Regions from separate parts of the Homo sapiens genome. Here regions 1, 2, 4, 5 and 6 are each reported to be linked to region 3. Evidence: microRNA targets listed by miRTarBase, many of them from high-throughput screens and not tested one by one. Region 3 holds a microRNA gene; each other region holds the end of a gene's coding sequence.
What was found. The annotated mature microRNA hsa-miR-4284 reads GGGCUCACAUCACCCCAU and lies in region 3 at 2,911-2,928, opposite strand. An mRNA with a match to its seed (bases 2 to 7 or 8) in the 3' UTR can be bound and repressed. Matches are read on the target gene's strand: a 7mer-m8 pairs with bases 2 to 8, a 7mer-A1 pairs with bases 2 to 7 and ends in A, and an 8mer does both.

Region 1: the mRNA of SKIDA1 is a reported target of hsa-miR-4284. Seed matches in the 3' UTR shown: 7mer-A1 at 1,034-1,040 and 7mer-m8 at 1,152-1,158.
Region 2: miRTarBase lists SHISA2 as a target of hsa-miR-4284. Seed matches in the 3' UTR shown: 8mer at 1,154-1,161.
Region 4: miRTarBase lists KIAA1210 as a target of hsa-miR-4284. Seed matches in the 3' UTR shown: 8mer at 3,346-3,353.
Region 5: miRTarBase lists ZNF333 as a target of hsa-miR-4284. Seed matches in the 3' UTR shown: 7mer-m8 at 1,188-1,194.
Region 6: the mRNA of ZNF556 is a reported target of hsa-miR-4284. Seed matches in the 3' UTR shown: 7mer-m8 at 3,158-3,164, 8mer at 2,153-2,160, 8mer at 629-636 and 8mer at 256-263.

The regions. Positions count from the first base shown.
Region 1 is chr10:21,511,667-21,515,756 of GRCh38, reverse strand. SKIDA1 (SKI/DACH domain containing 1) reads left to right here. Exons shown (of 4, transcript NM_207371.4): 4 at 1-2,282. The coding sequence ends at 661. Among named protein-coding and RNA genes, the nearest start is that of SKIDA1, 12 kb to the left of the region's middle.
Region 2 is chr13:26,042,884-26,046,973 of GRCh38, reverse strand. SHISA2 (shisa family member 2) reads left to right here. Exons shown (of 2, transcript NM_001007538.2): 2 at 1-2,377. The coding sequence ends at 461. Among named protein-coding and RNA genes, the nearest start is that of SHISA2, 7.1 kb to the left of the region's middle.
Region 3 is chr7:73,710,165-73,714,254 of GRCh38, reverse strand. MIR4284 (microRNA 4284) reads right to left here and starts at 2,938; the gene lies at 2,858-2,938. All of the region lies in intron 1 of STX1A (syntaxin 1A), which reads left to right.
Region 4 is chrX:119,077,650-119,081,739 of GRCh38, forward strand. KIAA1210 reads right to left here. Exons shown (of 12, transcript NM_001394962.1): 12 at 986-3,855. The coding sequence ends at 3,680. Among named protein-coding and RNA genes, the nearest start is that of CT47C1, 6.7 kb to the left of the region's middle.
Region 5 is chr19:14,718,941-14,723,030 of GRCh38, forward strand. ZNF333 (zinc finger protein 333) reads left to right here. Exons shown (of 12, transcript NM_032433.4): 12 at 1-2,959. The coding sequence ends at 385. Among named protein-coding and RNA genes, the nearest start is that of ZNF333, 31 kb to the left of the region's middle.
Region 6 is chr19:2,877,692-2,881,781 of GRCh38, reverse strand. It overlaps ZNF556 (zinc finger protein 556), which reads right to left. Exons shown (of 4, transcript NM_024967.3): 4 at 1-4,090. The coding sequence ends at 3,453. Among named protein-coding and RNA genes, the nearest start is that of ZNF556, 12 kb to the right of the region's middle.

The sequences.
Region 1 (4,090 bases), not on the chromosome of region 3:
AGAAGACAGTAGTGCTAATGAAGAATATGAACCTCACCTTTTTACAAATAAGCTAAAGTGCGAGTGCAATGATACAAAGGGTGAGTTTTACAGTGTGACTGAGAGTAAAGAGGAGGACGCCTTGTTAACCACAGCCAAGGAAGGTTTTGCATGCCCTGAAAAAGAAACTCCTTCCTTAAATCCACTGGCTCAAAGTCAGGGCCTTTCATGCACTTTAGGTTCTCCAAAACCTGAGGATGGGGAATATAAATTTGGTGCCAGGGTGAGAAAAAATTACCGGACACTAGTACTGGGAAAGCGACCTGTCCTTCAGACACCTCCAGTCAAACCAAATTTGAAATCAGCTAGAAGCCCTCGTCCTACAGGTAAAACTGAGACAAATGAAGGAACACTGGATGATTTTACAGTTATAAACAGACGCAAAAAGGTAGCCAGCAATGTAGCATCAGCAGTGAAAAGGCCATTTCATTTCATGGCAAATTTTCCTTGTCCACCATCACTCATTATTGGGAGAGATGGGGATTTGTGGCCGGCGTATTCCTTAAACACCACTAAGGATTCTCAAACTCCTCACAAGGCCCATCCTATATGGAAATGGCAGCTGGGCGGTTCTGCAATACCTCTTCCACCTAGTCACAAATTCAGGAAATTTAATTCATAAAAATGTTTTGGAAGATATTTTCTTGAACCATATTACCTTCCTTTTGTTGTAAACTGCACAGGATGGTTTGTACAAGTCCATTAATGTGTTACACCCCCTTTGGAGTCCTGGTTTATCGCATTTTGAAGACAGAAATCGGATTACTTTTTTTCCGTTGCGGGTTTTTTTTTTTTTTTCTGGAGTAGGGTGGGGGCGGGGTGGGAGAAGGGTTGGTTTACATTCCACAGACTACTTCAGGCTAAAGACTCAAGTAAAACTCAGTTATTACGGTAGAGCTGGAACACTTTACTGTTTCGATGCTAATAATGCACCCGGTACCTCAATTCAACTGCTACAAATAAATGTCAAAAGGTTGAATAATAAATATTACAATGAGCCATTAAGTTTATGCACTAGATTTCAGAGCTGAAAGTGTAACTGTTAATTCAGTGAAAGTTTGTTAGGTTACATGGTTACACAGTGAGGTGAGGTGAGGTAGCAAGAAGTTTCTGTGAGCCCAAAATGTTATTTTCTGGAGCTCTTGTTTGTGGGGTATCTTTTTCTTTTGACTCCCCTTATTCCCTCTCCAAGAGTAGTTGCACTTAACTTTTTTTTTTTTTTTTTAGTGGAAAGATTGGGGTGTGAGTCCTGATTAAATGCTAGTAAAAGCTGCCTCATACATACTGAGTAAAATAAATACGGAATTGTATTTTTTTTGTAAAGGGTGTGATTTTACTTTTAAAGCCACTCCTTTGCAACAGGAAAAGTCTGTTTTGTGTTCTCACCCAAAGGTTTTAAATAAGGTGACTCTTACTATTGTCCTGCTTATCTTGTGGTCTGAACATGACTCTTCAAACTCCCAAAACAATTGAAATATTTCTTTTTTTTTTTTTTTTTTTTTTTGGAGAGAGTCTCGCTGTGTCGCCCAGGCTGGAGTGCAGTGGCACAATCTTGGCTCACTGCAACCTCCACCTCCTGGGTTCAAACGATTCTGCTGCCTCAGCCTCCTGAGTAGCTGGGATTACGGGCGCGTGCCACCATGTCCGGCTAATTTTTGTATTTTTAGTAGAGACGGGGTTTCACCATGTTGACCAGGCTGGTCCCGAACTCCTGACCTCAGGTGATCCGCCTGTCTCGGCCTCCCAAAGTGCTGGGATTAAAGGTGTGATCCACCATGCCCGGGCTGAAATATTTCTCGTAATAGCAGAATATTTCATGGCCGAACTCTTGATAGTGACAAATCAGTAAATACAACCAAGAAAAAGAAAATGAGGGGTCAGAGTTGCAATACCCCAAATGAAAAATAACAGTTTTTTCAGGGCTTTTTGGTACCAGAACTCAGGCACTTGGATTTTATGACCTTATACTTTTTCTGCATCTCTCTAAAACTTGTGTTTTCAGACCATCCTGTGTATAGAGCAGGAGAGTTTCTACTGCAAGTGACAATCAGAGGTGACTATCTATATTTGCACTTAAAATCAAAGTAGTTCAACATGCAAATGCTAGGGTCTAGCCCTGGGTAAGGGCCATGCTGGTGTACTGTGTTGTGATGATGGAAGCAGTAAATCAAAATTATGGAAATTTGCACTGTTGAAAAGCATGCTTTAGCTTTATTTTCAATTAAAAACACTGTTTAAAATTCCTGGTTCCATACATTTCTACTTATTCCAGATTGAAGAACGGTTAACAGGATTGAATGGTTTTGTTGACATTTTCACTTGTAATGTTTTTGCCTGAAAGAAATGCATTTATTGGGTGTAGTGTTTTGTTGTAATACTATGTGACGAGGCCAGTCAGGTTCTGTGCAGAACACTGGTGGATTTCTTTCCAAGCAAGAACAAAACTTTACAAACTTGTTACACATCAAGTAGGAAAAGTTTCAGGCTTAAGAAAGTGAAGCAGAGATCAGTGATTTTTTTAATGAAAGTTGAATCTAATAATTTCTGGCCCACCTCCTTTAGTCTGACAAATTATGTATCTCAGATCCTTGCTATCTTGAATCTAAGAAGTTGCATCTATAGATCATAAATCACAAAACAAAACAAAACACCAATGAAATGTTTACTGTGTGAATTTAAGTCACTATTTCTCATGGAAATTCAGTCTATTGTTTTTGTTTTTCCTTAACCTTTTAGTTCCTATTCCCTTTGAAATTTTCCTTTTGTCTATAAATGTTTCAGTTAGATCTGGATGGCCTCAGCCCCTAATTGCTGAATATGCTCTGTGGTTTTCCTCTTATTGTAAAGGACCGAGGCTGAGAATACCTGCATCCAAATACATTTGGATGGAGTAAACAGATGCTTTCAACTACCTTCCTTCCTTTCCTTCTTGAATGTTGCCATGCCAGGTGTAGGTTCACTGGATTCTTTTTTATTGGAATGGTAGATATGGTCAAAGTGAAAATTTGGGGATGGTATCCTTGAATTCTTGTTTGTATATAATTCCAAAGACCAGTCCATGTTATAGTTAAAGCCCCAGAAAGCTAAACAATTGGCTTCATAATCTCAGTTCTTTCCTCTTTGGAAAGCAATACAGAATTTAGGTGCAGTAAGTTGTCCTGAAAAATCAATCTGTAAAAAGTGTGACACACACATTGGAAGAGTGTAATTTCTACTCTTTAATTACTTCTAAGTTAAGAAAGTTCAAAGTACGGTGACTACTACACGCAGACTAGTACTTCTCTTGTTGGCTAAGGACTCATTGTTCCTAAATTATAAAGTGAGAATAAATTTGAAGTCTACAGATCTTGGATGTGGAAGGACTGTAAGATGGAATAAGCACAATTTAAAACAAATATACCCTGTGGAATTTCTGACATAAAATATTGGCCTCCAGCTTTGACACTTAGTCTCTAACCCTCAGAGAATCAATAGTTTCAGTTTATAGGAGCTGGAGAATGAACAGCATGGAGGCCGAGGCTTTCCAGAGTGATACCATCAAAAGGAAAGAAATTAAATAGTCAACACAAATTTCACCCCACAGTACTACCATAAGCCAGCCAACCACAGCAAAACCTGAGTTAGGGCTTCTGTAAGGAAAGTGTACCAAATAGTATGCAGTAACTTGCAAATACAAGGTATTCTTTCAATTCCTGCTAGCCCCTTAGTTGTTTCCCCATTCTGATATGGGAATTATTCTCAGTACTGTTTATATTATTTTGGTTGTTTTATGATTAATGACAATATCTAGACTTTTCTAAGCTGCTATAAATGTCCCATTTGTTCAGAAAGTTAAGCCTTATTGAGAAAAAAACAAGTTACCTCCATTGATAGATTACATTTTTACATTTAGATGTTTTCAGGGCATAGAATTAAAAACAAACAAAAAAACAAGCACTATATGACTCCAGGGTGACTGATTCCTGTGTCTAAAGTCCAACATTTACAGACATGAGGAAAAAAAGCAGGAAAAGGCTCTTTTTCTAACTTTTTGGGTTAACAAACTTATTTT
Region 2 (4,090 bases), not on the chromosome of region 3:
TCCGGCCTAAGCAGGATCCCCAGCAGAGCCGAGCCCCAGGGGGTAACCGCTTGATGGAGACCATCCCCATGATCCCCAGTGCCAGCACCTCCCGGGGGTCGTCCTCACGCCAGTCCAGCACAGCTGCCAGTTCCAGCTCCAGCGCCAACTCAGGGGCCCGGGCGCCCCCAACAAGGTCACAGACCAACTGTTGCTTGCCGGAAGGGACCATGAACAACGTGTATGTCAACATGCCCACGAATTTCTCTGTGCTGAACTGTCAGCAGGCCACCCAGATTGTGCCACATCAAGGGCAGTATCTGCATCCCCCATACGTGGGGTACACGGTGCAGCACGACTCTGTGCCCATGACAGCTGTGCCACCTTTCATGGACGGCCTGCAGCCTGGCTACAGGCAGATTCAGTCCCCCTTCCCTCACACCAACAGTGAACAGAAGATGTACCCAGCGGTGACTGTATAACCGAGAGTCACTGGTGGGTTCCTTTACTGAAGGGAGACGAAGGCAGGGGTGGATTCTCGAGGTGGAAGTCCGCACATGTCGGTGGTATTTATGGCACGATTCCTTTGGATGGCTTCATTTGCCCCCAGACTGTATGAAAACATCTCCGAATTAGCATTTCTGGATATGTTTCATCCAGGGTATCATTGATTTATGATGGAAAACCGGCCTCAGCTGGAGATGACTGTGATGTTGCTGATGGGTGTATAACAAATGCTTGAGTCCGAAGTGCCCTTGAGATATGGTTGACGAAAGAATTTTATAAACTGATAAATTAAGGATTTTTATTATGTTGTTATTATTATTTCTTTTTTGTTGTTGACTGCACAGGATCAAAATGCCTGTTATCTCCCTTTTACCTGGGACTTTTTTTTTTTTTTTTTTTTTTTTTAATCAGACAGGGTCTTGCTCTGTTGCCCAGGCTGGAGTGCAGTGGTGCGATCTCGGCTCACTGCAACTTCAGCCTCCTGGATTCAGGCAACACTCCTGCCTCAGCCTCCCACGTGGCTGGGATTACAGGTGCCTGCCCCCATGGCTAATTTTTTGTATTTTTTGTAGAGATGGGGTTTCACCATGTTGGCTGGGCTGGTCTCACTCTCCTGACCTCAAGCAATCTGCCTGTCTCAGCCTCCCAAAGTGCTGGGATTACAGGCGTGAGCCACCGCCCCCAGCCTGAGCCTTTTTTTTTTTCTAATGCATCCAAGGTTAAGGGGAAGACGCAAATAACAGGACTATTCTAAAAGGAAACCTGTTTGAACTCTGTGAGATCAGTCATCAGTCTCAGTATTCCACAGGCACACCTTAATTTCATTGTAAAAAGATATATATATTTTGTCTATTTTTGTGCTTTTGGGGGCCTATTTTGTGCTTTTTTACCTTATGTAGAGATCTTATTACAAAGTGATTTTCTACATTAAAAAGAGACTGAAATAAATTGTATAGTTACTTAACTAATGAAGACATTTCAGAACTCTGGGATGATTTTAATCTTGAAGTAGTAGGTGGTATAGTCATAAAACCATTCATCCCCTTCTTGATTGTATCTTAATTTTCTGGCTTTAAGGTGACATCTGAGAGGTAATGCATTCTTTTTTATATTGAAATCATAAACTATCACCCGCTGCTTCTCTGAGTTACTTTTAATTTTGCCTTGTGGTTATGGTTTGGCGTTTCCTTCTGTTTGGTTTTCAGAGCCCCATGTCTATATAGTCCTGAGTGCAAGTAATTACTATACTTGTAAATGAAGATCAGTATTTCTGCCTAGATCTGATAAAAAAATTTTCTTGTCTTAGTTATAAAAATTCAAAGAAATGTGTTACAAAGATACTTAGTATAGCTCCTCAGCCATAACCTGAGACTTGGGATGAAATTTAAACCAGATACGATTTACTTTGCAGATCATAAGGCTTTTTATACTCTTGTTATCAAAATGGCTTATTTTTCAGGCACTAAGGATTGTTAAGAGAAAAGCTTTTCAACGAAGGATTGCCTTTCTTCTCCCACACTGTTCTTGATTTCCTCTCTCTTTCAGGCCTCAACAGGCACTGTATTCATTGCCAATGTTCCAAATTATCAAATTCAAGTGAATTTATTTGTGTGTTCTTTACTTATATAAAAAAAGATAACTTTAAGGATGTGCAAGTACATTTCCAACTGCTAGCACAACCAGTATTTTGTAATTAAACAAATCGCTGTATGGTATGGTCTTCTACACATTTATGTCTATAGATATCTATCGATCATCTTTCTATTCTGTTTCATGACTGAATAATGTAAAACCAGTGTTGGCAATTGGTATCATCAATGATACTCATTTTTTAATAACCAAAGGCAGGGGAAAATCATTTTACTTATTAATAAATATTTTATGATGTGAATTCCTAGCGGAGTTGGGTTTCTTTTTTCATTTTCATTGTACTTGGTAATTTTTCAGATGGTCTAGTCAACCCTGTTAATAGAATAAAATTTCTAAAAATTATGAATGTTGCTTTCTAGAACCAAGAGCCTATTTTTCAAAGTAATATCTGGGAAACTTACGTGAATGTTCTGAGTCAGTGAGTATTATTTTACAGGTTGACATGTTGACAACACAAAAGAAACAGTTCTTTTGGAATCATTATATTATGAGGCTAATGGGTGTTCCCTGTATTGTCTTTGATGGTGGATTCCTGCTTACCTCTGGAAGTGGAATTCCTAGAACTTTGGAATTTAAAGGGATCTCAGATGTCACCCAGCCTAAAGATTGGCAAGCTTTTTTTTTCAGTAAAAATCCAGAGTCTGGCTGGGCTCAGTGGCTCACCCCTGTGATGGCAGCAATTTGGGAGGCCAAGGCGGGAAGATCGCTGGAGACCAGGAGTTCCAGTCAAGCCTGGGCAACATAGCGAGACCCCATCTCTACAAAAAAAGAAAAAATAAATAAAAATTAGCTGGGCGTGGTGGCGTACTTGGTAGTATCAGTGATTTGGGAGGTTGAGGCATGAGGTTCACTTGCAAGCTCAGGAGTTGGAGGCAGCAGTGAGCTATGATTTCACTACTACATTCCAGCCTGGGTGACAGAGTGAAAACCTGTCTCCAAAAAAATAAGAAAAAAAGATCCTGAGAGTAAATATTTTAGGTTTTGCCAGCCATATGGTATCTAGCAGCCATTCACCTCTGCAGTAGCAGCACAAAAGCAGCCATACATAGATACACATAAACAAATGAGCAAGTCTGTATGCTCATAAGACCTTTTTTTTTTTTTTTTTTTTTTTTTTGAGATGGAGTCTCACTCTGTCGTCCAGGCTGGAGTGCAGTGGTGCGATCTCGGCTCACTGCAAGCTCCGCCTCCCGGGTTCACGCCATTCTCCTCATTCTCCTGCCTCACTCAGCCTCCTGAGTAGCTGGGACCACAGGCACCCGCCACCACGCCCGGCTAATTTTTTGTATTTTTAGTAGAGACGGGGTTTCACCGCGTTAGCTAGGATGGTCTCCATCTCCTGACCTCGTGAATCGCCCCCTCCGCCTCCCAAAGTGCTGGGATTATAGGCATGAGCCACCACGCCTGGCCAAAACCTTCTTTATATGCACTGAAATTCAAATTTCGCATGATTTTGACATGTCACAAAATAATCTTCAGTTTTTTTCCCGAAAACATTTCAAAATGTAATTGTAAGCTCCAGTGCTGTACAAAAGCAGGCAGTGAGCAGGATTTCCCTGGCAGGCTATAGTTTGTCAGTCCCTCATCTAATCCTCCTTTCCCCTATGCAGGAGTCACCTCTGTGGACATTTTTGGCACTCTTTTTTAAACAGGGATGGAAAATGCTTGCTTTTCTTAGCATGAGATTGTATAGTTCTTCTATGTGGTAATTAAATACCATGATTAAAGCAAAAAAAATACACCTTAATGAATGAATTTTTCATTTAGTGACTGCTACTTGGTTTTCCAAAAGTATAACATTATTAGAAGCAACCTCAGATCTTTTCAGTTTTGGTAAGAGCTGGAAAAATTTAGCTGACAAAGCAAAAATGTTCAACTACCTGTTTTAAGGACACCTTCCTTATCATGAAATATAAATCAGAACCTATAAAGGGTAATTTGCACCTTGTAGAAA
Region 3 (4,090 bases):
TGCCTGTAATCCCAGCTACTCGGGAGGCTGAGGCAGGAGAATCGCTTGAACCTGGGAGGCGGAGGTTGTGGTGAGCCGAGATTGCGCCACTGCGCTCCAGCCTGGGCAACAGAGCGAGACTCTGCCTCAAAAAAAAAAAAAAAAGTGCCAGGACAAATTGGATGTTGGTTGGATGGGAGAAGAGGAGGAAGATGGCAGATGTCCTAGGTTTCTGGCTTGGGGTTCTGCGCTAGGCAGTTCAGAGGATGGGGCTCTGGCAAAACAGGTGGAGCCTGGTTTTGGCCAGGAGGCAGGCAAGGTGCCCGTATGATATCTGGGCACATCCGTCCGTAAGACACTTGGGCCTTTGAGTTTGTGCCCCACAGTTCCAGCTGCCACCTGCACAGCGAAGGGTTCCAAGTCCCCAACTCCAATCCAGCCCCCTCTCCAGAGCTGTGAATGCCACTCAGAAAGCATTGGTAGATCCCCAAGGGAGCTGGGCCCTAATTATTCCACAGAAATCTGTGTGTCCACTTTTGTTTTTTTGAGACAGGATCTTGCTCTGTCACCTAAGCTGGAGTGCAATGGCACGATCATAGCTCACTGCAGCCTCGACCTCCAGGGCTCAAGCAATCCTCCCACCTCAGCCTCCTGAGTAGCTGCAATTACAGATGCATGGCACCACGCCCAGCTAATTTTTGTAGCTTTTGATAGAGATGGGGTCTTGCTATGTTGCCCTGGCTGGTCTCAAACTCCTGGACTCAAGTAATCCTCCCACCTTGGCCTCCCAAAGTGCTGAGATTACCGGCGTGAGCCATCATGCTTGGCCACTTTATGTATACAGTGCCCGCCCTGGCCAGCCCAAGACACCAGGAAGACAGCATGCCAGGGTAGCCACATCACCTAGTTACATTTTGGTCAAGAGTGTGTCTGGGCTGGGAAACAGAGGAGGTGAGGGTGGCAGTGGGGCTCTGCCATCCCGCGTCCTTATCAGTTTATTCCGTGTCCAATGAGAACTGATTCCTTATCTGAGTGAATCTGGAGGACATCTCTAGAATGCTGCCACCAGGCTCTAGCTTGGATGTGGATGAGGGTGCAGGGGCGACAGAGCCAGGAGCCATCAGAATCCCACAAACTGAAATAAGCATCAGAACAAATGAAGAAATGAAACAGGAAGAAGGTCCTTCACTCGAACCCCAAATCCACTCCACAGACAGTGGTTGGGAAGGGCTTGGGGCTTTTCTTGACAGGAAATGCTACATGATCACTTATCTGATTCCTGGCTGTATTACTAGAGGTAGATCATATAGAAAGAGGGAGGGGATGGGCCAGATCTTTGGCATTGCCCAGACCACAGTCAGCAGCAGATTCAGTTTGTGTGCTGTATGACAGGAGACAGAGGCACAGTGGAACAACTCTTGGGCAGGGGCTGTAATTTGGGGTCCCTGGGAAGGATCTGAAAGGGAAGGAATACTTAAAAAGAAAAATCTAGGGAGGATGTGGATGCCGCCTTCAAATCTATAGCAGGGGTACCCCAGGGAGAGGGCACCCACAGGTTCTTTATGGCCTGGAACCAAACCACAGGGAAGAGAAGGACTCTAACAGTTGGGGCTGCCCGAGATGGGCAGAGCTGTCTGGGGAAGCTAGTGAGCTCACTGTCACAGGAGGTTTGCAAGCTGAGGCTGGCAGCTGAAGCCAGGGGGACTTTTCAGGTCCCTTAGGGCCTGAGAGTTTTCAGCCATGGCTCCAATAGGAATGTGAATGGCGTGTGGAAGAACAAGGTGCGAGATACTGATTTGGGGGGGCAGGGAGGCTTCTGGAAGGAGGTGGCATCGAGGAAGAAGGGAATGTCACCTTCATGGAATCAGCATCCCGGGCAAAGGGATGTGCCTGGGGGAAGTTGGGGGCAGAGGGTGGATTGTAGGGCCAGGAACCAGTTGTAGGTGTGGGGGAGTGGGGTCTGATCCCAGGGGAGGGCAGCAGGATAAAGAGCAGAGCTGGGGGTGAAAATTCCCAAGAACGAAGAAGTAGAAGGACGTGGGGAGGAAAGGCCCACTTCGCCCATCCCCTCTAGGTTTTGCTTGGAGCTGTGGCTGGTTTGACCATGCCTCAGAGGTCAGGCCCTCAGCCCCCCGACTGGCTTTGGGGCCAATCTCAATGCCACCTCCAGGGTAGACTTGACCTGCGTGCCCCCATCTACCCTGGCCCTGATCTCCCTTTCCCCAGCCCTACCCTCATAGACGGAGGGTCCAGAGGAGGATGCGGGCATCTCTCCTCCCAGCCCTTCTGTTAGAGAAGCTTCCTGGTCCAGCCTTCAGCCTTCTGGGAAGGTAGCAGGTCAGAGCTGGCCGGATGCCTGGAGAAGATCTGCCCTCATTACACAGATGGGCAAGCTGAGGTCAAGAGAGGCACCAGACAGGTGCCAGGGGTCTCTGAGGGCAGGACAGGGGTTCGGTGGGGCTGGCAGTGACGCTCGTCTCTGGCCACGGAAAAGGAGCTGGATAATTCTCCATCCACCCTTTGTCATCTACCCTGATCCTCTGAGCACCAGGGCAGAGAGGGCAGGACACTGAATGGCAGGAGCTCCTGGGGCCACTTCCCAACCTGGCAGCCTGCCCAGGAGGAGGAACTGGGCTCCTCCTGGCAGTGCTCTGCCTCAGTTTCCCTAGGGAGGGCTCCTCTGACTCAACTCCTAGGCCTGTCACGGTCTAAAAGCGTGAAAACGGCTCCTGGATTTTCTGTGTCTGTAGGGAGCTTGGTGGGGGAGGGGGTACCACCTGGTGACAGCCCCAGGCACTCGGTGGGGAGTGGGAACGAGGATTTATTTTAGCTGCTGGGGAGGTGGTACGATATCTTAAAGAGAGGAGGCCCCTCTGAGCCGCCTCTATCAAAGCTCCTAACTACCCCCTCTCCCCATGAGTCCCCACTTTGATGGGGTGATGTGAGCCCCTCACAGAACATGCTCAGGCCGGGCATGGTGGCGGCTCACACCTATACTCCCAGCACTTTGGGAAGCCAAGGTGGGAAGATCACTTGAGCCCAAGAGTTTGAGACCAGACTGGGCAACATAGTTTGACCCTGTCGCTACAAAAAAAAAAAAAAAATCAAAAAGTAGCTGGGTGTGGTGGCATGCATCTGATGCATCTGTAGTCCCAGCTGCTTGGGAGGCTGAAGTGAAAGGATGGCTTGAGCCCGGGAGGTTGAGGCTACAGGGAGTTATGATTGTGCCACTGCACTCCAGCCTGGGTGACAGAGCGAGACCCTGTCTCAATCAATCAATCAGTCCATCCATCAATCAAACAAACATACCTGCCCTGCTTCCCCACTTTTTCTCAGCCCTCCCTCCATGCAGCCAGGTGTCACTGTCCCCATTTCACAGAAGAGTAAATAGAGCCAGAGGGGTTAAGGCCCAGCCTGATGAGTCCCATCAGTTCTCTCAGCCCCTCAACCTCCACCTGCCTCCGTCCTGACGCGAGAGCACCGAGGTGGGGTCAGTGCTGAGCTAGTCAGTGGCCACTCCCGTGAGGCACTCAGAAATGAGGTGGGAACAAGATCAGATGTGGTGGTTCACGCCTGTAATCCCAGTACTTTGGGAGGCCGAGGCGGGTGGATCACCTGAGGTCAGGAGTTCGAGACCGGCCTGGCCAACATAGTGAAACCTGTCTCTACTAAAAATACAAAAATTAGCTGGGCATGGTGGCATGCACCTGTAATCCCAGCTACTCGGGAGGCTGAGGCAGGAGAATTGCTTGAACCCAGGAGGTGGAGGTTGCAGTGAGCCAAGATCACACCACTGCACTCCAGCCTAGGTGACAGTGCGAGACTCTCTCAAAAAATAAAAAAATAAAAATAAAAGAGGTGGGAACAAGCCCTGAGCCCCAGGCTGAGAGACCTCAGTCCCTGCCCCAGGGTGGCCACCCCGGATATCCTTGCCTTGGCTGCAGAGAGAGACCTGGCCTTGCCAGCAGCGTGGGCTGACCCTGGCCAACTGGCGGTATGAGGCAGACAGTAATAATTGTGCGCAGCATGCTGGGAAGTCAGAAGTATGATTACCCCTGCCCCACGATGGGGGTGGCTTTTGTACAGCTGGTCCTGGGACAGTGGAGTGGGG
Region 4 (4,090 bases), not on the chromosome of region 3:
GGAAGGGGAGCAGTTCTTCCCACACCACTGGGGCAGGACTTACAGGAGTCTGAGAATTCTAGAACCCAACCTGGCCTTTGAGGTCATTATGAAGGTACATTTGTCATGGAAGGAGATAAACCATTAAATAAAACATGCTGTATTCGTTTATTTAAACATTTCAAATATTTAGACATATGGTATGTGGATCCCAAGTTGAACTCTTGTTCTAAACCCTGAAAATGTTACAGGTGAGCCAGGCTCATTATCTGGCCTATAACCCCTTTCCCTTCCTCCCTCCATGCCACTTTGTTACCTGAGCACAGTAGGGCCCCTTGCTTCTGAAAAGCGCTTGTTGCAGTAGCCCATCTTGCTATCGGACTTGGACTTTGTCCCTGACCCAGGCTACAGTGCAACCACCAATCACCTTGTCTCTTCTGCTCGTCCCCCAACCACACCCCCTCTTTATTCTCCAGGTGTCCAAACGTAAAACCTCTTCAGTGGCCCTTCTCCCCCATACCAAATATCAATGCTCACCTGAAAGCCATCAGCTTGGTCAGGCACACCTGCGTGGACGCCCCTTATTCTCAGCACCACCTTTTAAGAACATTTTACTTTGGCCGGGCGCAGTGGCTCACGCCTGTAATCCCAGCACTTTGGGAGGCCGTTAGACGAGCAGATCACAAGGTCAGGAGATTGAGACCATCCTGGCTAACACGGTGAAACCCCATCTCTACTAAAACTACAAAAAAAATTAACCGGGCTTGGTGGCGGGCGCCTGTAGTCCCAGCTACTCGGGAGGCTGAGGCAGGAGAAAGGCGTGAACCTGCGAGTTGGAGCTTGCAGTAAGCCGAGATCGCGCCACTGCACTCCAGCCTGGGCGACAGAGTGAGACTCCGTCTCAAAAAAAAAGAACGTTTTACTTCTCTGACAACCTTCAGCTCTGAGTTGTCAATATCCTATTTGATTTCCCGCCCCATGTCACAGACAGAGATGGACTACAGAATAGGCTTTATTGAATTTATTTGCTTTGCATATATCTTAAATCAAAAAAGTTAAAGAAGTAGAAAAGTTGTCAGAATATGCCTTTAGGCATTTAAAAAGAACTTAATCTCTTCATTTAAAAACAGAACTTTGTTGTTAACTGTGGAAAAGAAATTGTTATTGGAGAGTTCTCAGAGTGAGAATAGCTGAATACAGGTTCACTGTGAAAAAAAGGAAGGGAGGTGTAACAGCTGTGTTGTTAACTGTGGAAAAGAAATTGTTATTGGAGAGTTCTCAGAGTGACAATAACTGAATACAGGTTCACTGTAAAAAAGGGAAGGGAGGTGTAACAGCTAATCTACCAGGAGTACCCAGATAAAGGGCATCTACCTTAATATATTGTTCACTATGGGAATACAAAGGAAATAAAATTCACTCAATCAAAATAGCATTATCAAAATGGCAAAGGCACAGTATCAGGAAAAATAGATGTTATATAGAGAAAATGCAAAATTTAGCATGTAATTGTACTGTGTCACATTATACCAGCATCAACAAAACCCAGCACCAAGTGTTTAGCTCTGACACCTCACTACCTCTCTGGATTTTTTTGCATGGGGCAGCACCCCACTCAGAATATAAAGGCACAGTCAGATGTCCAGGCCTGCATTTCTGTTTAAGCAAAGCAGCACAGTGTAACAGAGGCAGACACAGTGATAACTACTCAGAAGTCACTTCTGGGTCTCCTAGAAAAATGAGCTAGGTTTACTGCCCAGACATCCAAAGGGAGCTCTCCCTTAGTGTTTGGTGGGTTTGGGGGATGGAATGAAGAGAAAGACAGAGAAAGGAAGATTTAACTAACTTCTAGTGAACCTAGATGAGATTCTAGGGTGGTCTGCATCTCAGAAAGCCAGCCAATTAAGGAACTGGCTCTGGGGGTAAAGGTGCCTACATCTTCATCCTCAGCCGAGGAGTTATTAATGGAGGCTGTGCTACAAAAGAAAAAGACCGTGTGGCAAGATGGGAAGGGAGGCATCAACATTTGCTGGGCCACTTGCCCCCTCCCCTCACAGCTGACCATCCCTCTCATCCTCTTTCTCACTCTCCCTTTTTGGTCTTCCCTCTTCTCCGTGGCTGGGGGATGAGTGGGTCACTGGAAGGTAGGGTCTCTCCAGCCTAGTAACTTTTGAGGTGTGTGCCTCTAGGAATGAGAGGGGAAAAGCTGATTTACTCACTTAAAGCTTCCAGGTAGCGGAAAGTTCATTTCTCTGTGGCTTTGGGATTGCACTCTTGCTTTGGGCTAAAACCTTGTGAAGCAAAGACAGCTGAGGGGAAAGGACAAGAAGCTACATGGAGTTCTCCACCTTAATGCTGGAACCAGAGAGGAAGGAGCTCCAGTGGCTCCAGATGTGCATCAAGGCAGTAAGCTTGCCATCTGCCTGATGGAAAGTACAGCTTTTGGCATCTGTAGAACTCTAATTTCAATAGGGTCTTCAGTGCTTAACAGGATATATGTGATAGGCAGTGATTTCTGTGCGATCAGAGAGGGTCACAGTAGTATTGGGACAAGAAGCAAAACATTGATGGACTAACCCTCCAGAGGAGTAAGATAATTCCCAAGAAGCATTCTGCGTCATAGGGAGGTGCTCGCTACAGCCAGGCCTGTGACAGGTCGACGTGGGGTATGTCCAAAGAGGGAGCTTTGTGTAAGTGCTCTGCATGTTACTATCACCCAAGGAGAAAGCATCAGGGGCCCCCAGGGACACAGGGAAGATGTTTCAAGGGGTGATAGGCTGATTGGAGAACTGGCTGTGCAGAAATTTTCTTGGAGACCCAGAATTTTCACTTCCACCGCCTCTTTTAGGATCCCTTGCAAAGCTTAGAGCAACAACCAAATAATTGCGGCATCTATCTAGGCTCATAAAACCTAAAGGCCAATCTTTAGGTCAAATCATCTGAATGTTTCCATTAGAATTACTTTATTTGGTTGAGGGAAATGACAATTTTCTAGTTGCTCCAACAAAATGTTTTTGCTTTCTCCCTTCTAAAGCACATTGTCCAAAGTTAAAGATTTTGCAATTTTACAGCAGTGCAAATGTTTTCGATAGTTTTAATAGAGGAAATGCTGGGTTTCTGGGTGCTGGCAGTGACTACGTGGAAGGTTAAGCATTCATGGCATTTATTTCATTCAAATAATTATGTTTTAATTTGCATTTCTAAGGCTATTTTGCTTAATAAATTCTTATTTTGCTTAATAAATTCTTAGTTTGCTTAATACTTATTTTGCTTAATACAAGTGGTCACAGTAAAAAGATCACTACATAGAATTAATACAGCTATTAGCAATTATCATTTAAAACGCTGATGCTTGGCCGGGCGCGGTGGCTCACGCCTGTAATCCCAGCTTTTGGGAGGCTGAGGCGGGCGGATCACGAGGTCAGGAGATCAAGACCATCCTGGCCAACATGGTGAAACCCCGTCTCTACTAAAAATACGAAAACAAAATTAGCCGGGCGTGATGGCGGGCGCCTGTAGTCCCAGCTAGTCGGGAGACTGAGGCGGGAGAGTGGCGTGAACCCGGGAGGCGGAGCTTGCAGTGAGCGGAGATCGCGCCACTGCACTCCAATCTGGGTAACAGAGCGAGACTCTGTCTCAAAAAAAAAAAAAAAAAAAAAAACTAAATAAAATAAATGCTGATGCTCCACACAAGAGCTCTTTATTGCGTGATTTCTGCCATGTGGCTCCATGCTTTGGCTTTCTTCCTGGCCAGTGAGAACCAGACAGGCTCAATTGGCTCAACTGGGTTCTGGAACTTGGCTGGGAGAGTTGAAGATCGTTTGGTTTCTTTTTCCATGGCAGGAACTTGCAGTATCTTCTGAGCTTCAAATCCAACTGGAACCACAGCAAATAACACACAAGCAATAAGGAACCCCAGCGATATTGGGGTATGTTGTTTATGGAATGCCATATAATGTTTCCTCCTTTCAGGTTTCCTCTGATCCCCCTGCTCTAGTGCTTTCTAAACTCTTCTCCCTTTGGTGCCAGACTTCTAAAAGTTAGGACCTGTGTGATGCCATGGGTAGTATGTCAAAGGGGTAAAATCAACTTGGCTATGGCCACAGGGCCC
Region 5 (4,090 bases), not on the chromosome of region 3:
TTGCGGTCAGGTCTTGAGTCGTCTTTCAACCCTGAAGAGTCACATGCGAACTCACACTGGAGAGAAGCCCTATGTGTGCCAGGAATGTGGGCGAGCCTTCAGTGAGCCCTCATCCCTCAGGAAACATGCAAGGACTCACAGTGGCAAGAAGCCCTATGCATGCCAGGAATGCGGGCGAGCCTTTGGTCAGTCTTCACATCTTATTGTACATGTGAGAACACACAGTGCCGGGAGACCCTATCAATGTAATCAGTGTGAGAAAGCCTTCAGGCACAGCTCCTCACTCACTGTACACAAAAGAACCCATGTGGGAAGAGAGACCATTAGGAATGGCAGCCTGCCTTTATCCATGTCTCATCCATACTGTGGGCCCCTTGCTAATTAACTTCCATTTTGTAAAAATATAAACACATGGGGCTATGACTTTCCCTCGTAATACTCCTTTAGCTGCATCCTGTGTTTCAATGTATAATATTTTCATTTTGGTTTAATTGTAAGTATTGTCTTAACCTCCATTATCGTTTATTCTTTGACCCATCTATTATTTGGAATTAGATTTTTCAAAACTAATATGTGGATATATTTTCATAGAGGTATAATGACTTATAGTGAAATGCATACATCTGAAGTGTACAGTTGGATGAGTTTGACAGATGCATACATGCATGTAACCACCACCCCATTCCAGATATAGAATGTTTCTATCTCTCTGGAAGGTTCCTGCATGTTATATGGCTATTTCTTAGTTGCCTTTTTGTTGTTGGTTTCTAATTTAATTACATGGTGAGAAGAGTATGTGGCCTCTTTGTTACTGAGTCATAGGTATTTGCTGAGATTTGCTATTAGGTCTGGTGTGGCTTATTCTTCTAGCTGCCAACCCAAATTACCCCTTCCTCCTTAGAAAAGAACCTGGGTTTTCTGTTCAGATTGGCAGTGTGCACTATTAAAAAGCTTCCATCTCCCGGCTGGGCACGGTGGCTCATGCCTCTAATCCCAGCACTTTGGGAGGCTGAGGCTGGGGGATCACCTGAGGTCAGGAGTTCGAGATCAGCCTGGCCAACATGGTGAAATCCCCTCTCTACTAAAAATATAAAAATTAGCCAAGTTTGGTGGCATGCACCTGTAATCCCAGCTACTTGGGAGGCTGAGGCAGGAGAATTCTTTGAACCCAGGAGGCAGAGGTTGCAGTGAGCCGAGATTGCGCCACTGCACTCCAGCCTGGGCAACAGAGTGAAACTCTGTCTCAAAAATAATAATAATAAAAAAAAGCTTCCATCTCCCAGCCCTTCTTGCAAGCAAGGGCAGGCCATTTCCTCCGGTCCTGGCTAGTATGAATATGAGAAGTCACTGGATGTGACTCTGGGGAAGATATTGTGTTCAGGGATGGTTTCATGTAGCCACATCTCTCCACTTCTTGCCTTTTGGACAAGTAGACATGATTTCTAGACCTAGAGGAGCCCTCCTGTGACCATAAGGGTAAAAGCCGCAAGCTAAGAAGAGGGTGGCCGGAAGTCATAACCATCTTGCTTCTGTAATCTAAAAAATATTTAGGATAGATTTAATAGAATTGGCATATTTATGTGATTGCAGCAGCCCTGGACTATTTATTTCTGGATGTCCCATACATGAAAAATATGCACTTCTTACTGGTACAGTTTTCTTTTGTTTGTTTTTGTTTTTGGTGGGAGGTTTATTTCACCTGAATATAATTCCTAACTGATGCACTTAGTATATGTCAGTTTTTATAAATGCTTCATGGATGGTTGAAATCAATGTATTGTATTCTACAAATGTCTGCTAGATCAAGCAAATGTGTTTAAAAACCATCTACACATTTATAAATGTTGATCTGTGATCTAGCATTTATTGAGAGAGGTATGTTAAACTCTCCCACCATGATTATGTATTGCTGAAAAATCTTTGTCATTCTGTCAGTTTTTAAATTTATGTATATACATACATATATATGTTTTGAAGCAATGAAATTAAATATAGATACTGACATTTTTTACATTTCCAACAAATTGTTACTTTTATTCTTATAAAGTGATCATCCTTTTCCCTATTACTGAACATTCAACCATTCATTGTAATGATAGTAAATACTTATTTAGAGTTTACTATTAATAGATAGTAGCCACTGCCTGAAGCTTTGCATCTTTTAATTTAGTCCTCACACTGACACTTTGAGGTATGTACTGTTATCCCCAATTCCCAGATGAGGAAGCTGAGGCCCAGCAAGTTAAGGTGGGCTATCAAAGTCATCTGGGTGGCATGTGACAGGCCTGACTCTCTCTACAGTGGCAGACCCAGGGGACTAGTCTCCATTTTTACTTGTTCTTTTTTTTTTTTTTTTTTTTTTTTTGGTTTTAAAGTTCTCTTAGGTATAACTTACATAAACGTTAATAAATCTTAGGGTACACCTTGGTGAATTTTGTATATGTCTATACCCACCACGGTCTCCATCAAAATATTTTATCGTCCCAGAAATTTCCCTTGGGCCCCACCTCATCCTCAAAGGTTATCACTATTCTGATGTCTATCACCATAGATTTGTTTTTCCTGTTCATGTAAATGGAACCATAAACAGCCCTCTTGTGTCTGTTTTCTTCACTTAATATAGTGTCATTGAGATTTATCTATGTTGTATTATCAGTAGTTTATGCTTTTTAATTGCTGTGTAATAGTCCATAGTCTGAATATACCACAATTTAAAAATTCTATTCTGTTTACAAACATTTGAGTTCTGTCCTCCAGGTTCATCCATGTTATCACAAATGACAGAATTTCCTTCCTCATCAAGGCTGAATAGTATTCCATTGTGTAGATATACCACATTTTCTTTATCCATTCATCCACCGATGGACAGTTAGGTTGATTCCATATCTTGGCTATTGTGAATAATCCTGCAGGTTTTATTGTTATGAATAAAGCTGCTGTGAATGTTCTTGTTAAGTCATACTGTGGACATAGGTATTCATTTCTCTTGAGTATAAATGTAGGAATGGAATTACTGGATTTTGGAGGAGACCTATCTTTAGCTTTAGTAGATCTTGCCAGACAGTTTTTCAATGTGGTTGAAACCATTTACACCTCAATTTGTACATCAATGAATGAAAGTTTCATTGCTTCACATCCTTGGCAACATGTGGTACTGTCACGCAAATTAATTTGAGCTACATTAGTGGGTATGCAGCAGTTTCTTAGGTTTAATTTGCATATTCTTGATAAGTAATGATGCAGTGGTAGATGGTTGCCACAATGACTTCTTCTATCCCTCTATGTATATGTCTTTTCCATGTGACTTTGCAGCTCCTCCTATCAAGAGGTGGAGTTTATTTCTCCAAACCTTGAAGACGAGCTTGGTCATGTGACTTTCTTTGGCCAATGGAGTGTTGACAAACATGACAGAAGCAGAGGCTGGAAGAACACACGTTGGGCTTTTCCTTCTTAGTTGTGACCATTTGTATGTCATCTGTGGAAAAATGTCTAAGTCCTTTGACCATTTTTAAATTAGTTTTTTGTTGTTGTTGAGTTGTGGAAGTTCTTTATATATTCTGAATATTAACCCCTTATCAGATATATGATTTGCAAATATTTTCTCCCATTCTAGGGGTTACCTTTTTACTTTATTAATTGTATCCTTTGATATGCAGAAGTCTAAGATTTTGGTGTAGTCCAACTTATAGATATTTTTTGTTTTCTTTAGATGTCATATCCAAAAAATCATTGCAAATCTAATGTCGTGAGGCTTACCCCCTATGTTTTCTTCTAAGAGTCTTATTGTTTCAGCTCTTGCATTTAGGTCTTTGATGTATTATGAGTTAATTTCTGTTTGTTTGTTTGTTCGTTTTTGTGTTTTTGAGACGGAGTCTTGCTGTGTTGCCCAGGCTGGAGTGCAATGGCGCAATCTTGGCTTACCGCAACCTCCGCCTCCCCGGTTCAAGTGATTCTCCTGCCTCAGCCTCCTGAGTAGCTGGGACTACAGGCGCATACCACCATGCCTGGCTAATTTTTTTGTATTTTTAGTAGAGATGGGGTTTCACCATGTTAGCCAGGATGGTCTTGATCTCCTGACCTTGTGATCTGC
Region 6 (4,090 bases), not on the chromosome of region 3:
AGCAGTTCTTGAAATAGTATTAAAAAAAAAGAAATAGTATTTAAGACATATTACATGGTGGAACTATAAATGAATTCATGATGAGATTGTCACTTACTGAAGCCCGATCCTTTATTCTGCATTCCCTATTATCTACCTTGTCAAGTTTGATACTATACTTTATTCTGCCTTGATATTATCCAAAAAAAAAATTTTTTTTTTTTTGAGATGGAGTCTTACTCTTGTCGCCCAGGCTGGAGTGCAGTGGCGCAATCTTGGCTCACTGCAACCTCTGCCTCCCGGGTTCAAGCGATTCTCCTGCCTCAGCCTCCCAAGTAGCTGGGATTACAGGCGCCTGCCACCACGCCTGGCCAATTTTTTGTATTTTTAGTAGAGACAAGGTTTCACCATGTTCACCATGTTGGCCAGCGTGGTCTCGAACTCCTCACATCAGGTGATCCACCCGCCTCGGTGGGTCCTGGGATTACAGGCGTGAGCCATTGCTACTGGGCTCCAATAAAGTTTAAACTTGTTTTATTAGTTATCTTTTTATGTCTTTTGCTAGACTTATTTAATACTTAAATTTATAAAACCGTTACGTAAGTTTTTGTCATTATGAATAAACAAGAATTTATTAGGCTGGGCGCGGTGGCTCACGCCTGTAACCCCAGCACTTTGGGAGGCCGAGGTGGGCAGATCACAAGGTCAGGAGATCGAGACCAGCCTGGCCAGCATAGTGAAACCCCGTCTCTACTAAAAATACAAAAATTAGCCGGGTGTGGTGGCGGGTGCCTGTAATCCCAGCTCTTCAGGAGGCTGAGGTAGGAGAATCACTTGAACCTTGGCGGGGGGGTTGCAGTGAGCCAAGATCACGGCACTGCACTCCAGCCTGGGTAACAGAGCGAGAATCTGTCTCAAAAAAAAAAAAAAGAATTTCTTAGACAAAATTATAACAGTATAGGAAACAAATGTACTAGAAAGAAAATGTCTAAATCTGAATGCATCTGGTAATATTAATTCAGAAGTATAATTCTTTTTTTTGAGACGGAGTCTCGCTCTGTCACCCAGGCTGGAGTGCAGTGTCGCAATCTTGGCAAGCTCCGCCTCCCAGGTTCAAGCCATTCTCCTTCCTCAGCCTCCCGAGTAGCTGGGACTACAGGCACCTACCAGCACACCCCACTAATATTTTGTATTTTTAGTAGAGATGGGGTTTCACCGTGTTAGCCAGGATGGTCTCGATCTCTTGACCTCATGATCTGCCCGCCTTGGCCTCCCCAAAGTGCTGGGATTACAGGCGTGAGCCACTGTGCCTGGCCCAGAAGTATCATTTTTAAAGTCACCATGTTGATTTGGCAATTTTCAATATTTTAATACATTCTCCCAGTAAATAAAAAACAGAGATTGACATTTGTTAGTATACAACTTATTTGAAAAACTCAGTTAAATAGGCTATTTCTAAGAAACATTTTATCCATTTGTATAGAATCCAACTTCTTTAAAAACACAAACACAGTAAATAGATATTTCTCAGAAACAGAAACTTTTGTTTTAATAATACATAATCAAACATAATAACTGAACACATACTGAGAGATTGTATTCAGCTCTATGTGACAGGAAATTTCCAGAGTTTACCTGATAAGCCAGTATTGTCTTTCATTTTCTCATGAAAGGTAAGATTTATCTCACGAAGAATACTAGGTCACAGTAGATGCAGTAGGGAAACAATCCCCTGTGCTTTTTTAAAAAATTATTCTTTATTTATTTATTTTTGAGACAGAGTCTCGCTCTTTCGCCCAGGCTGGAGTACAGTGGCACGATTCCAGCTCACTGCAAGCTTCGCCTCCCAGGTTCACGCCATCCTCCTGCCTCAGCCTCCCGAGTAGCTGGGACTACAGGCGCCCGCCACCACACCTGGCTAATTTTTTGTATTTTTAGTAGAGACGGGGTTTCACCATGATAGCCAGGATGGTCTCGATTTCCTGACCTCGTGATCCGCCCACCTCAGCCTCCCAAAGTGCTGGGATTACAGGCGTGAGTCACCGCGCCCAGCCGCAATCCCCTGTGTTTTTATGGTTGTACCATTGTATCTGTCATGGAAGCAGGAACACAGAAGCACAAGAAATACTGAGACAATGAGGTATTAAGATAATGATAATATGGCCAGGCATAGTGGCTCACACCTGTAATCCCAGCACTTTGGGAGGCCAAGGCGGGCAGATTTCAGGAGTTTGAGACCACCCTGGCCAACATGGTGAAACCCCGTCTCTACTAAAAATACAAAAATTAGCTGGACATGGTGGTGCATGCCTATAGTCCCAGCTACTTGGGAGGCTGAGGCAGGAGAATCGCTTGAAACCGGGAGGCGGAAGTTGCAGTGAGCCGAGATCGTGCCGTTGCACTCCAGCTTGGGCAACATAACAGGACTCTGTCTCAAAAAAGAAAAAGAAAAAAAACCCAAAAAAACCTATTTTCCAATTCCAACCCAGAAGCCAGGTCAAAGAGCAAACAGCAACAGATGAAAAAAATAGTTCCCACGAGACTACACTCCTCCAAGAATTTGCATGCATACGTATTTCTACCAACTACCTATTAGTCCACAAGCAAAATGAAGAAGGATTCTCTGACCAATAGCATAAAGCCACTGAATTACTTGCCTGTATAAGTAGAAAGTATTAACATTAAAAATAGTTTTTCCCTGTAAAATGGAAAGGTGGAATAAAAGTAACATGGTAGTAATATCCAGCTTGGAACACACAGGGCCAGTCAGAAAATGTCAACAAACACCCATATTTCATTGGTCTAATGGCCTCACACGGAGTAACAAAAAAAATATATAAAAATTAAAGTTAATGCATATTAAAATACATCAGATCACCCATGGGTGCAATACACTTCTAAATGAAAAGAGAAACATTAGTAATTTATAAGAAAAAACCATTATGTATCAAAATTTCAGTACTATAGGTGAGAGAGGACTTACAGGATTCTCCCCTCAACTTTACCTGCAAGAGAACTGCAAATTCATTTGCTAGAGGCCCACTTTTAGGATGTGGTCCTGATAAAGGCAATACCATATTTATAAACGTCATGAGATTCTTCTCCTGCCATGAATTTTCTTTTTTTGGAGATGGAGTCTCGCTCTGTCACCCAGGCTGGAGTGCAGTGGTGCCATCTCGGCTCACTGCAAGCTCCGCCTCCCGGGTTCACGCCGTTCTCCTGCCTCAGCCTCCTGAGCAGCTGGGACTACAGGTGCCCGCCACCACGCCCGGCTAATTTTTTGTATTTTTTTTTTTTTTAGTAGAGACGGGGTTTCACCATAGCCAGGATGGTCTTGATCTCCTGACCTCGTGATCCGCCTGCCTCGGCCTCCCAAAGTGCTGGGATTACAGGCGTGAGCCACTGCGCCCGGCCCTCCTGCTGTGAATTTTCTGAACCATGTATGTGAATTAATTTGCACAGGTTTTCCCCCATTACTTAGATGTACAGGATTTCTTTCCTGTGTGACTTCTCACATGACCTTGAAAGGCTTTGGGACAACTGAAAGCTTTCCCACATTTTTCGCATTTACTGGGCTTCTGTCCAATCTGCGTTCTTACATTTTTGGAAGAGCAAAGCCCGCCTGAAGGTTTTCCCACACTGGCTGCATTTACAGGTTTCTCCCCAGTGTGCTTTCTCTCATGTTTGTGTAAAGATGAGGACCAACCATACGTTTTCCCACACGTTTCACATTTATAGACTTTCTCTCTAGTTTGTGATTTGACATCTGTGGAGGGGCGAGGCCTCGCGGAAGACTTTCCCACGCTGCCCCCACTCACAGGTTTCTTTTTAGCATGCGTTCTCGCGTGTTTGTGTAAGGATGAGGGCCAACCGAATGCTTTCCCGCATTTTCCACACTTATAGGGTTTCTCCCCGTTGTGAATTCTCACGTGTCGTTGAAAGGATGTTGCCCAGCAGTAGGCTTTCCCACACTGCTTGCACTCATACGGTCTCCCTCCGGCGTGCATGATCATATGGACTCGAAAGGATTTCTGACACCTGAAGGCTTTCCCACAGTGCTTGCACTCATACGGTCTCCCTCCGGCGTGCATCATCACATGTGCGCGAAAGG